Linked DNA regions of Homo sapiens. The protein of the gene in region 1 interacts with the protein of each later gene in a pairwise test. Each region holds a gene or a part of one and is shown in the gene's direction. Other genes may lie near its edges.

Region 1 (3,337 bases):
GTGGGACCAGAGGCTGGGCTGGGCCCATGCCAGAGCTGCCTGGTTCTGTCTGTTTCAGAACAAAGTTCTGGACGTGGATGGTGTGAAGGTGAAGCTGCAGGTAAGGTGACTGGCAGAGGACAAGTTGGGGGACAGGGGACACCAGGGAAGGGCTGGACAGCCTGACCAGTGCCTGTCGCTGCAGATGTGGGACACAGCTGGTCAGGAGCGGTTCCGCAGTGTTACCCATGCCTACTACCGGGATGCTCATGGTGAGCCCCTGGGTACCTGGGCTGGTTGGGGCGGGGGTCTGAGCACCTGAGGGTGCAGGTGATGGTGGATGTCCTCACTGCCCTCTGTCCCCAGCTCTGCTGCTGCTCTACGATGTCACCAACAAGGCCTCCTTTGACAACATCCAGGTCAGTGGCTTTCCTGGTGGGGTGAAAGGGCCCTGATAGGGCCTGACCCATCCCAACCTCCTTCTGGTAGATGGCATCAGGGTTCCAAAGGACCCCGCTGAGAGAGGGGAGGGGGAAATGACAGCCTTCTGGGCTGGAGGTGGCCCAAGTGGACCTGAGTGCCATTCCAGCTCCCTCAGCAGGAGGCTTTGTGTAAGGGACCTGTAAGGTGGGCTTCTGTATGTGGTACACGGGGGGTTATCACTTCTAAAGACAGGTATCCTGGCCAGGCATGGCGGCTCACCTGAGGTCAGGAGTTCGAGACCAGCCTGGCCAACATGAGGAAACCCCATCTCTACTAAAAATACAAAAATTAGCCGGGCGTTTTGGCACACACCTGTAATCCCAGCTACTCAGGAGACTGAGGTTGCAGTGAGCCAAGACTGTGCTACGGCACTCCAGCCTGGACAACAGAGCAAAACTGTCTCAAAAAAATAAAATGGGCTGGGCATGGTGGCTCACACCTGTAATCCCACCACCTTGGGAGGCTGAGGTGGGCGGATCACGAGGTCAGGAGTTGGAGACCAGCCTGATCAACATGGTGAAACCCCGTCTCTACTAAAGATACAAAAAATTAGCTGGGCGTGGTGGTGCGTAACTGTAATCCCAGTCACTTGGGAGGCTGAACCCTCCCAAGGTTCTCTGAACCCCAGGAGAATAGCTTGAACCCAGGAGATGGAGACTGCAGTGAGTCGAGATGGAGCCATTGCACTCCAGCCTGGGAAACAGGGCGAGACTCTTGTCTCAAAAAAAAAAAAAAAAAAAAAAAGATAAAGACAGGTGCCCTCTACAGTGTGACCTGGAGGGCCAAAGTTCTGGGGCATGGGGCAAGCCATGCAGGGAGCCCCAGCCTGGTCTGCTGCCTCCCACAGGCCTGGCTGACCGAGATCCACGAGTACGCCCAGCACGACGTGGCGCTCATGCTGCTGGGGAACAAGGTGGGAGGCCCGGCTGTCCTCACCTGGGCCACAGGGCAGGGCAGGTGAGGGGGCAGGGGCCAACCATGGGCCAGCTTTCACCAAGACCCTGTGCCTGGGCCAGGTGGACTCTGCCCATGAGCGTGTGGTGAAGAGGGAGGACGGGGAGAAGCTGGCCAAGGTGAGTCAGGGCAGGGGGGTGGTGAGGGGGTGCCCCTGGAGGCTGCGAGCCTAGGCTGTCCCCGCCAGGCCACCACCTGGCTGGCAGCAGCTGTTTACAGGAGTATGGACTGCCCTTCATGGAGACCAGCGCCAAGACGGGCCTCAACGTGGACTTGGCCTTCACAGCCATAGCAAAGTAAGTCCTGCCAGTCACCAGGACTCCCCCAGCCCAGGGCCTGAATCCTCATTAGAGTCCAGGCCATCGTGTCCCCTTGTCACCCCCACTCCGCAGGGAGTTGAAGCAGCGCTCCATGAAGGCTCCCAGCGAGCCGCGCTTCCGGCTGCATGATTACGTTAAGAGGGAGGGTCGAGGGGCCTCCTGCTGCCGCCCTTGAACCTGGCTGAGCTCAGTCCTCTGGAGGAAGCCGTCCAGTCCCTAGAAGGCTGGACAGAGGGTCTCCAGGCCCTTCTGACTTTGTTGCCCAGTGGCCAACGCCCGAGTGTCTGTTTTCAGGAGCCCCAGGTCAAGCCTTGTCCCTTCCTCCTCCCAGCAACAGTCCCAACAAGCAGGCTTCTGAGAGCCCGTGGCCGCACACTGGCCGCCACGGAAAAGCAGTCTTCTGCACGGGACGGGGAGCGGCAAGTGGACAGACTTTGCCACGGTGCTCTGCTGCCCCCTCCTGGGCACGTCCAGGTGAGGGAGGGCTGGGGCTGGCACCACGCACAGTGCCTAACCCTAGAAAAGCCATGTCTTCAGCCGCACATGCTCAGGCAGCTAAGGGAGGACGCCTGCCCACGCCTGGGACAGAAGGCTTCACTGCTAATCACATCGTGCATCTGTGTGTCCTGGGAGCTGCCTGCTCCCGGCCCACCCTCTAGGAGGCTCTGGCTCAAACAGCAATAGGGTCTTCCTCACTGACCTTGGAGGATGCCTGTGGCCTTGTGATAAAATGTGGGAAATCACAGAAAACACCAGAAACAACAACTGCCAGCCCGGCCTGGCCACAGGTGAGGTCTGTGATTTCCGAGCACGCTCCACCTTGCACTCAACTTGGCCTTTTGATTGCACAAGCCTTTGTTTTCAGTCCTAGTGAATAAAGTTGTGTTTTCTGGAGCGTCTGTCTCATCTGTTGAAAAAAATCCACTTCTAGAGCAGGATGCTGGAGTTTGAGAGACTCAGCAAGGCCCAGAACCCTCAGCAGGTGTGTGGCTACCATTCCTCCATGGCCCATGGCTGCCTCCCTAAGGAGGCACATGGGAACCCTAGGTGGTGTCAACTTCCCTCCACAAATCTCAAAAGCCTTTTTGGACTCACCCTGGGGCAAAAGGCATGAAAAACAGTATTTGACTGGGCGTGGTGGCTCACACCTGTGATCCCAGCACTTTGGGAGGCTGAGGTGGGCAGATCACCTGAGGTCAGGAGTTTGAGACCAGCCTAACACGGAGAAACCCCGTCTCTACTAAAAATACAAAATTAGCCGGGCGTGGTGGTGGGCGCCTGTAATTCCAGCCATTTGGGAGGCTCAGGCAGGAAAATCGCTTGAGGTGGAGGTTGTGCCATCGCACTCCCGCCTGGGAAACGAGCAAAACTCCGTCTCAAAAAAAAAAAAAAAAAATCACGGGCAGAAATGGAGAAGGCAATCCCAAGAGATGAAAAGTCACTGGTAACGAGCTTCCGTTTTCATGTCTGTACCCTTTTCCAAGATTGCCTGTGGATCAGCCAGACCTCTGGGGTGCCAGAATAGGAAAATAAAGACACTTGAGAGAAAACCGAATCAACTCACTACCTTTCTTTATTGCTAAGCACTTCAATAGACACAG
Region 2 (7,296 bases), on another chromosome or scaffold:
TTAACATTTTTTCCTTCATTTCAACTTTGGTGAATCTGACAATTATGTGTCTTGGAGTTGCTCTTCTCGAGGAGTATCTTTGTGGCATTCTCTGTATTTCCTGAATCTGAATGTTGGCCTGCCTTGCTAGATTGGGGAAGTTCTCCTGGATGATATCCTGCAGAGTGTTTTCCAACTTGGTTCCATTCTCCCTGTCACTTTCAGGTACACCAATCAGATATAGATTTGGTCCTTTCACATAGTCCCATATTTCTTGGAGGCTTTGTTCATTTCTTTTTATTCTTTTTTCTCTAAACTTCTCTTCTTGCTTCATTTCATTCATTTGATCTTCCATCACTGATACCCTTTCTTCCAGTTGATCGAATCAGCTACTGAGGCTTGTGCATTCATCACGTAGTTCTCGTGCCATGGTTTTCAGCTCCATCAGGTCCTTTAAGGACTTCTCTGCATTGGTTATTCTAGTTAGCCATTCGTCTAATTTTTTTAAAGGTTTTTAACTTCTTTGCCATGGGTTCGAAATTCCTCCTTTAGCTTGGAGTAGTTTGTTCGTCTGAAGCCTTTTTCTCTCAATTCGTCAAAGTCATTCTCCGTCTGGCTTTGTTCCGTTGCTGGTGAGGAGCTGCGTTCCTTTGGAGGAGGAGATGCACTCTGATGTTTAGAGTTTCCAGTTTTTCTGCTCTGTTTTTTCCCTGTCTTTGTGGTTTTATCTACCTTTGGTCTTTGATGATGGTGATGTACAGATGGGATTTTGGTGTGGATGTCTTTTTTGTTTGTTAGTTTTCCTTCTAACAGTCAGGACCCTCAGCTGCCGGTCTGTTGGAGTTTGCTGGAGGTCCACTCCAGACCCTGTTTGCCTGGGTATTAGCAGCGGAGGCTGCAGAACAGTGGATATTGGTGAACAGCAAATGTTGCTGCCTGATCGTTCCTCTGGAAGTTTTGTCTCAGAGGAGTACCCGGCTGTGTGAGGTGTCAGTCTGCCCCTCCTTGGGGGTGCCTCCCAGTTAGGCTACTCGGGGGTCAGGGACCCACTTTAGGAGGCAGTCTGTCCATTCTCAGATCTCAGGCTGCATGCTGGGAGAACCACTGCTGTCTTCCAAGCTGTCAGACAGGGACTTTTAAGTCTGCAGAAGTTTCTGCTGCCTTTTGTTCGGCTATGCCGTGCCCCCAGAGGTGGAGTCTACGGAGGCAGGCAGGGCTCCTTGAGCTGCGGTGGGCTCCACCCAGTTCAAGCTTCCCAGCCGCTTTGTTTACCTACTCAAGCCTCGGCAATGGCGGGTGCCCCTCCCCCAGCCTCGCTGCCGCCTTGCAGTTTGATCTCAGACTGCTGTGCTAGCAATGAGCGAGGATCTGTGGGAGTAGGACCCTCCGAGCCAAGCGCAGGATATTATCTCCTGGTGTGCCGTTTGCTAAGATCGTTGGAAAAGTGCAGTATTAGGGTGGGAGTGACCTGATTTTCCAGGTGCCATCTGTCACCGCTTTCTTTGACTAGGAAAGGGAATTCCCTGACCCCTTGTGCTTCCCGGGTGAGGTGACGCCTCGCCCTGCTTTGGCTCACTGGGTGCGCTGCACCCCCTGTCCTGCACCCACTGTCCGACACTCCCCAGTGAGATGAACCCGATACCTCAGTTAGAAATGCAGAAATCACCCGTCTTATGCGTTGCTCACACTGGGAGCTGTAGACTGGAGCTGTCCCTATTCGGCCATCTTGGCTCCACCCCCACCCTTTTTTTTTTTTTTTTTTTTTTTTTGGTAAAAACAGAGTCTGGCTAGGTTGGGCAGTCTGGTCTTGAACTCTTGGCCTCTAGCAATGTTCTCACCTTCGCCTCCCAAAGTGCTAGAATTACAGATGTGAGCCACCGCACCCAGCCTAAAAATTATGTTTGAAGTTAGCTTTATTAAGGTGTCACTTATCTTATGTAAAATTTACCTACTTTACATGTACAATGTGAATTTTAACAAACGTATGCAGTTATATAGCCACCCATACAGTGAAGATAGGAACTATTTCCATCACCCAAAAAAGTTTCTTTCTTTCCTTTTGCAGTGAAGTTCTCTCTCCTACCTCTCTGGCCCTGGTAAACCACCTGTCTGCCTTCTATCACTATAGTTTTGCCTTTTCTAGAACATAGGTAGTCTCTTCTGTGTATGGATGTCTTCTTTCACATTGTAGTGTACTTTGGAGACTCAAACCATGTTATTACATGTATCAGTAATTCATTCCATCTTCTTGCTGAGTGTACTCCATTGTTTATATGTTCCAGTTGAGGGACATTGTCCTTTTGCTTTTTAGAAAACTTTTTATTGGGCCAGGCACGGTGGCTCACGCCTGTAATCCCAGCACTTTGGGAGGCTGAGGCAGGTGGGTCACCTGAGGTCGGGAGTTCCAGACCAGTCTGACCAACATGGAGAAACCCGATCCCTACTAAAAATACAAAATTAGCTGGGCGTGGTGGTATGTGTCTATAATCCCAGCTACTCAGGAGGCTGAGGCAGGAGAATTACTTGAACCTGGGAGGCAGAGGTTGCAGTGAGCTGAGATTGTGCCATTGCACTCCAGCCTGGGCAACAAGGGCAAAACTTCGTTTCAAAAAGAAAGTTTTTATTTTGAAACAATTTTAGACTGACTTACAGAATAATTATAAAGATAGTAGAGAGAGTTTTCATATACCCTTTCCCCAGTTTCTCCTGATGTTTAACATCTCACATGGCCATGGTACAATTATCAACATTTAAGAAATTAATACTGGCTGGGCATGGTGGCTCACGCCTGTAATCTCAGCACTTTGGGGGGCCAAGGCTGGCAGATCACGAGGTCAGGAGTTCGAGACCAGCCTGGCCAACATAGTGAAACCCCGTCTCTACTAAAAATACAAAAAAATTAGCTGAGTTTGGTGGCACGTGCCTGTAGTCCCAGCTACTCGGGAGGCTGAGGCAGGAGAATCGCTTGAACCCGGGAGGCGAAGGTTGCAGTGAGCCGAGACCACGCCATTGCACTCCAGCCTGGGTGACAGAGTGAGACTTCATCTCAAAAAAGAAATTAATATTGGAGCCAGGTGGTGGTGCATGCCTGTAGTCCCAGCTACTTGGGAGACCAAGGTGGGAGGATGGCTTGAGCCGTGGAGTTTAAGACTAGCTTGAGCAATATATCAAGATCCCATCTCTAAAATAATAATAATAATAATAAGGCCAGGTACGGTGGCTCACGCCCATAATCCCAGCACTTTGGGAGGCTGAGGCGGGTGGATCACGAGGTCAGGAGATCGAGACCATCCTGGCTGGCATGGTGAAACCCCATCTCTACTAAAAATACAAAAAATTAGCTGGGGTGGTGGCAGACGCCTGTAGTCCCAGCTACTTAGGAGGCTGAGGCAGGAGAATGGTGTGAACCTGGGAGGCAGAGCTTGCAGTGAGCCGAGATCATGCCACTGCACTCCAGCCTGGGCGACAGAGCAAGACTCTGTCTCAAAAAAAGAAAAAATAATAAAAATATACTTTATTTTAAAAAGTAATATTGGTACAATACTATTATTTAAACTACAGACTTTATTCAGATTTTCATTGTCATTTCTCTAGTCTCCTACAATCTGACAATTCCTTAGTCTTTCTGTGTCTTTCATGACTTTGATGCCTTAATTTTTTTTTTTAATTTTTAAACACTTAAAAAATAGAGACAGGATCTTGCCCTGTCACTCTATTTGGAGTGGAGTGGTGCAATCATAGCTCATTGTAGCATTGAACTGCTGGGCTTAAGTGATCCTCCTGCCTTAGCCTCCTGAATAGCTATGACTATAGGAGTGTGCTGCCGTGCCTGGCTAATTTTTTTCTTATTTTTTGTGGAGATGGGATATTGCAGTGTTACCTAGGCTGGTCTCAGAATGCTGGGCTCAAGTGATCCTCCCACCTTGCCCTACCAAAGTGCTGGGATTACAGGTGTGAGCCACTGTGCCTGGCCTGATGCTTTCTAAGAGTACTTGTTTAGATATTTTGTGTCCCTAGATTTGTCTGATGATTAGGCTGCAGTTATGGATTTTTGGGAAGAATACCGCAGAGGTGATGTGCCCTTCTCATGGTGTCCTATCAGGAGCTACCTGATGTCAGTATGTCCTGTTACTGGCAAAGTTAACCTTAATCATTTGGTTAAGGTAGCCTCTGCCAGGTTTCTCCACCAAGTTACTATTTTTCCTTTTCTGTACTCTGTTAAGGCAAATTATTGCTTTTTAAATTTTGATGTACCTCAATATGCATGGGAGATACATAGCTTTGCAGCTCCCTCAATCTTAATTGTAATAATAATAGTAATAACAATAACTAGCACTTGCTCCGCCTGCATAGTTCTAAACACATGTGCCCATTTAATCCTCATGACACCCTGTGAAGCAGGCACTTTATGCTCATTTTATAGCCGAGAAGACTGAGGTACAGAGTACCTTGCCCAAGGCCTAATAACTAGTAAGTGATGGAGCCAGATCTTTTTTTTTTTTTTTTTTTTTTTTTGAGACGGAGTCTTGTTCTCTCTTGCCCAGGCTAGAGTACAGTGACATGATCTCGGCTCACTGCAGCCTCCACATCCCGGGTTCAAGCAATTCTCCTGTCTCAGCCCCCCGAGTAGCTGGGACTACAGGCATGCACCACCACGCCTGGCTTATTTTTGTATTTTCAGTAGAGACAGGGTTTGACCATGTTGGCCAGGCTGGTCTCAAACACCTGACCTCAGGTGATCCACCTACCTCTGCCTCCCAGAGTGCTGGGATTACAGGCATGAGCCACTGCACCCAGCCTGGAGCCAGCTCTTCACTTCGCCTGAGTTGAAGGGCTGACTTTAACATGGGCCATATGGTTGTCGTCAGAGCTTAGGATGGGGACGCTCTCATTCTTTGCCAGAGAAAACAAATGCTTCCTATATTTAATGCTTCTCTCTTGTTTTTTCTTTAAGACATTTTTTTGGTTTGTTTTTCCTTCCAGGAATATATCTTGTGTGACTAAAGATTTTAGTAAGCTATATGTGGCAATCATACCATATTAAAATCTTGGGGAGAAATCCAAGAAACTTTTGGAAACATTAAGGATCTATTTTTGGTCTTCTTTTCAGAAATAAGACTGAAGGTAGGGCAGAATATTCAGCATAGAAAAGTGCTGTGGTAGAAGAAATACTCAGTGAGTGACACTGCGCCTTTTTCTCCTGGGATGTTATCAGCCACTTCTACCAGGGGTGTCTCTGTTTGTCTGTATGTGTCTAACCCTGCCATGTTCGCCTTTCTTGACCACACTAATGACTTTTCTATGACACAGTCAAATGTATCTCTGAATAGCCTGACTTGGGGTAATAACTGTGGTTTACGTGATGACTTGGTCTCTGTGAGCCCCCTATTCTAGTAGCAGTGGAGCCACTGAAGGTCAGGCAGTGTGGGTGGACATTTGTCCATCTTCCTGTGACTCACTCAGCCGCCTGCCTTTCTGAGGGGAAAGAGCTGCAGGTGCAAAGCTCTAATACATCCCTTCCCTTCTCTGTCTAATTCTATTATGTATATTGCATATCCCCCAAATCCTTGAAATTACTCAGCTACGTGTCTTATTATATCTAGTCTGCCAAGCTGTCTAGGTATCAGTACAGTTTTTTTCTATGTCTATATTTATTTTCCGAAAATGAAATCCTACTGTATTTCTTTGTAGCTTCTTTTCTCATTTGACAATATAGCTGAAGAAGTTTCCATGTCATATGGCATTTATCTACAATGTTGTTTGGGTACCTGCCTATTATCAATAGCTTGGCTATATTATGATTGGTGGGGAATGTGGCTTGTTTCCCTCTATCCCTCTTCAGCATCCAGGACAGGATGTTCTTGCAGTCACCGAATGTTAGGAAGCTCAGAGTGCTCTCAGGCATCATCTGATTAATCTTTTCTTTTGCACATAGCATAGTTGAGGATAAGTCAGTGCAATTTTTAAAAATAAAGCTTTTTTTTTTTTTAATGTCTATTGTATGTCTGGCTGGAAGTGCCAGGGTCCACAGCTTAAACAAGACACTGCTTATCTTCCAAAGCCTTCCCAGAGAGGCATATACACACAAACTGTAGGATTTATTTCCTTAGGAAGGCAACTGTTTAGAATAAGTCTGATGCTAGCCTACAATATATAGAACACTTTACAAATGTAGAAAATTACTTGGGGAATTGATAATAGAGGTCAGGTTTACAGGTGTCTGGATCTGGCCTCAGAAGTCAGAGGGCTAAGGATTAGTCTTTTTCTCAGATATGGTTTTCTACATATTGATTATAGACAAAATATAAAGTAGAAGAAAATGTAAGGAAGAAAGTGAAAGTGGCCCATTTCTACTGCCAGAAATAGCCACTGTTTTATTTTGGTATAATTTTTCCTTTCCTCCCTCCGTTCTCCTTCCTCTTCCATACTGCAAATATGTTCATAATCCTGCATTTTTCATGTAACACTGTATCAAGGATTTTTAAATGTTACTTACAGAAAAGGACTTTGCTACTTTGATAAGGAAAAATATCTAGTTTTAATTTGTATTCCCTTAATATTTTAGGGAGGATTAACGTTCGTTTATGTTGACTGTCTATTCATGTTTATCCATAATTCTACCTTTCTATAAAATTGGACATGTTACTAAAGCAAGCCTCTGATTTCAGATGTCCTAAACGATGCTATATTTGATGAAGATCATGATGAGATGGTGATTGTGAAGGACATAGACATGTTTTCCATGTGTGAGCATCACTTGGTTCCATTTGTTGGAAAGGTAAGGTTCTCTTTGTTGTTTCCCAGCAATTTAAAACATAGTGAAAGTTTTTCAATTAGAATAATTATATTTAAAATTTTTAGCTGCCAATTGCTGATATCTCAGGTATTTACAATTATACATATATGGTTATTCTTTATTAACCTGACTAATAACTTGAAACTTAAAAAACAAAACCAAAGTAGCAGAAGGCTCTCAGGATAAGCCTTTCATGTTAAATACCAGGTTCATAGGTTAAAATAATGAGGTTTAAGTAGCATCTCTCTCTCTCTTTTTTTTTTTTTGTAGCTACTACAGGCTCTGAAAACCTTTAACCTTTATTTATTTATTATTAGCATCCCAATCTAGAGATGCCCTTTATTTTAACTTGAATAATGTTTGATCCAAGATAGATATGTATGTATGGCATGTCATGAGCAACAATAATTGCAGAATTTCTTGTGACAGAGGTTATGGTATTTGTGGATTTGTTTCCATTCCTTTCTATATTAGGAAAAGTGAATCTAATGCATTAGATTCCTCAGCACCTCTGTGAATTT

Evidence for each region.
Region 2: the proteins of RAB26 (region 1) and GCH1 interact in a two-hybrid assay, tested with the Homo sapiens proteins (one study listed by BioGRID and IntAct).

What each region holds. Positions count from the first base shown.
Region 1 is NC_000016.10:2,151,511-2,154,847, forward strand, and holds the end of RAB26 (ras-related protein Rab-26), read left to right. Parts: intron 1-58; coding exon 59-100; intron 101-184; coding exon 185-251; intron 252-345; coding exon 346-398; intron 399-1,309; coding exon 1,310-1,375; intron 1,376-1,478; coding exon 1,479-1,535; intron 1,536-1,635; coding exon 1,636-1,712; intron 1,713-1,808; coding exon 1,809-1,911; 3' UTR 1,912-2,655; downstream 2,656-3,337. UniProt on the Homo sapiens protein: The small GTPases Rab are key regulators of intracellular membrane trafficking, from the formation of transport vesicles to their fusion with membranes.
Region 2 is NC_000014.9:54,864,788-54,872,083, reverse strand, and holds part of GCH1 (GTP cyclohydrolase 1), read left to right. Parts: intron 1-6,647; coding exon 6,648-6,757; intron 6,758-7,296. UniProt on the Homo sapiens protein: Positively regulates nitric oxide synthesis in umbilical vein endothelial cells (HUVECs). May be involved in dopamine synthesis. May modify pain sensitivity and persistence.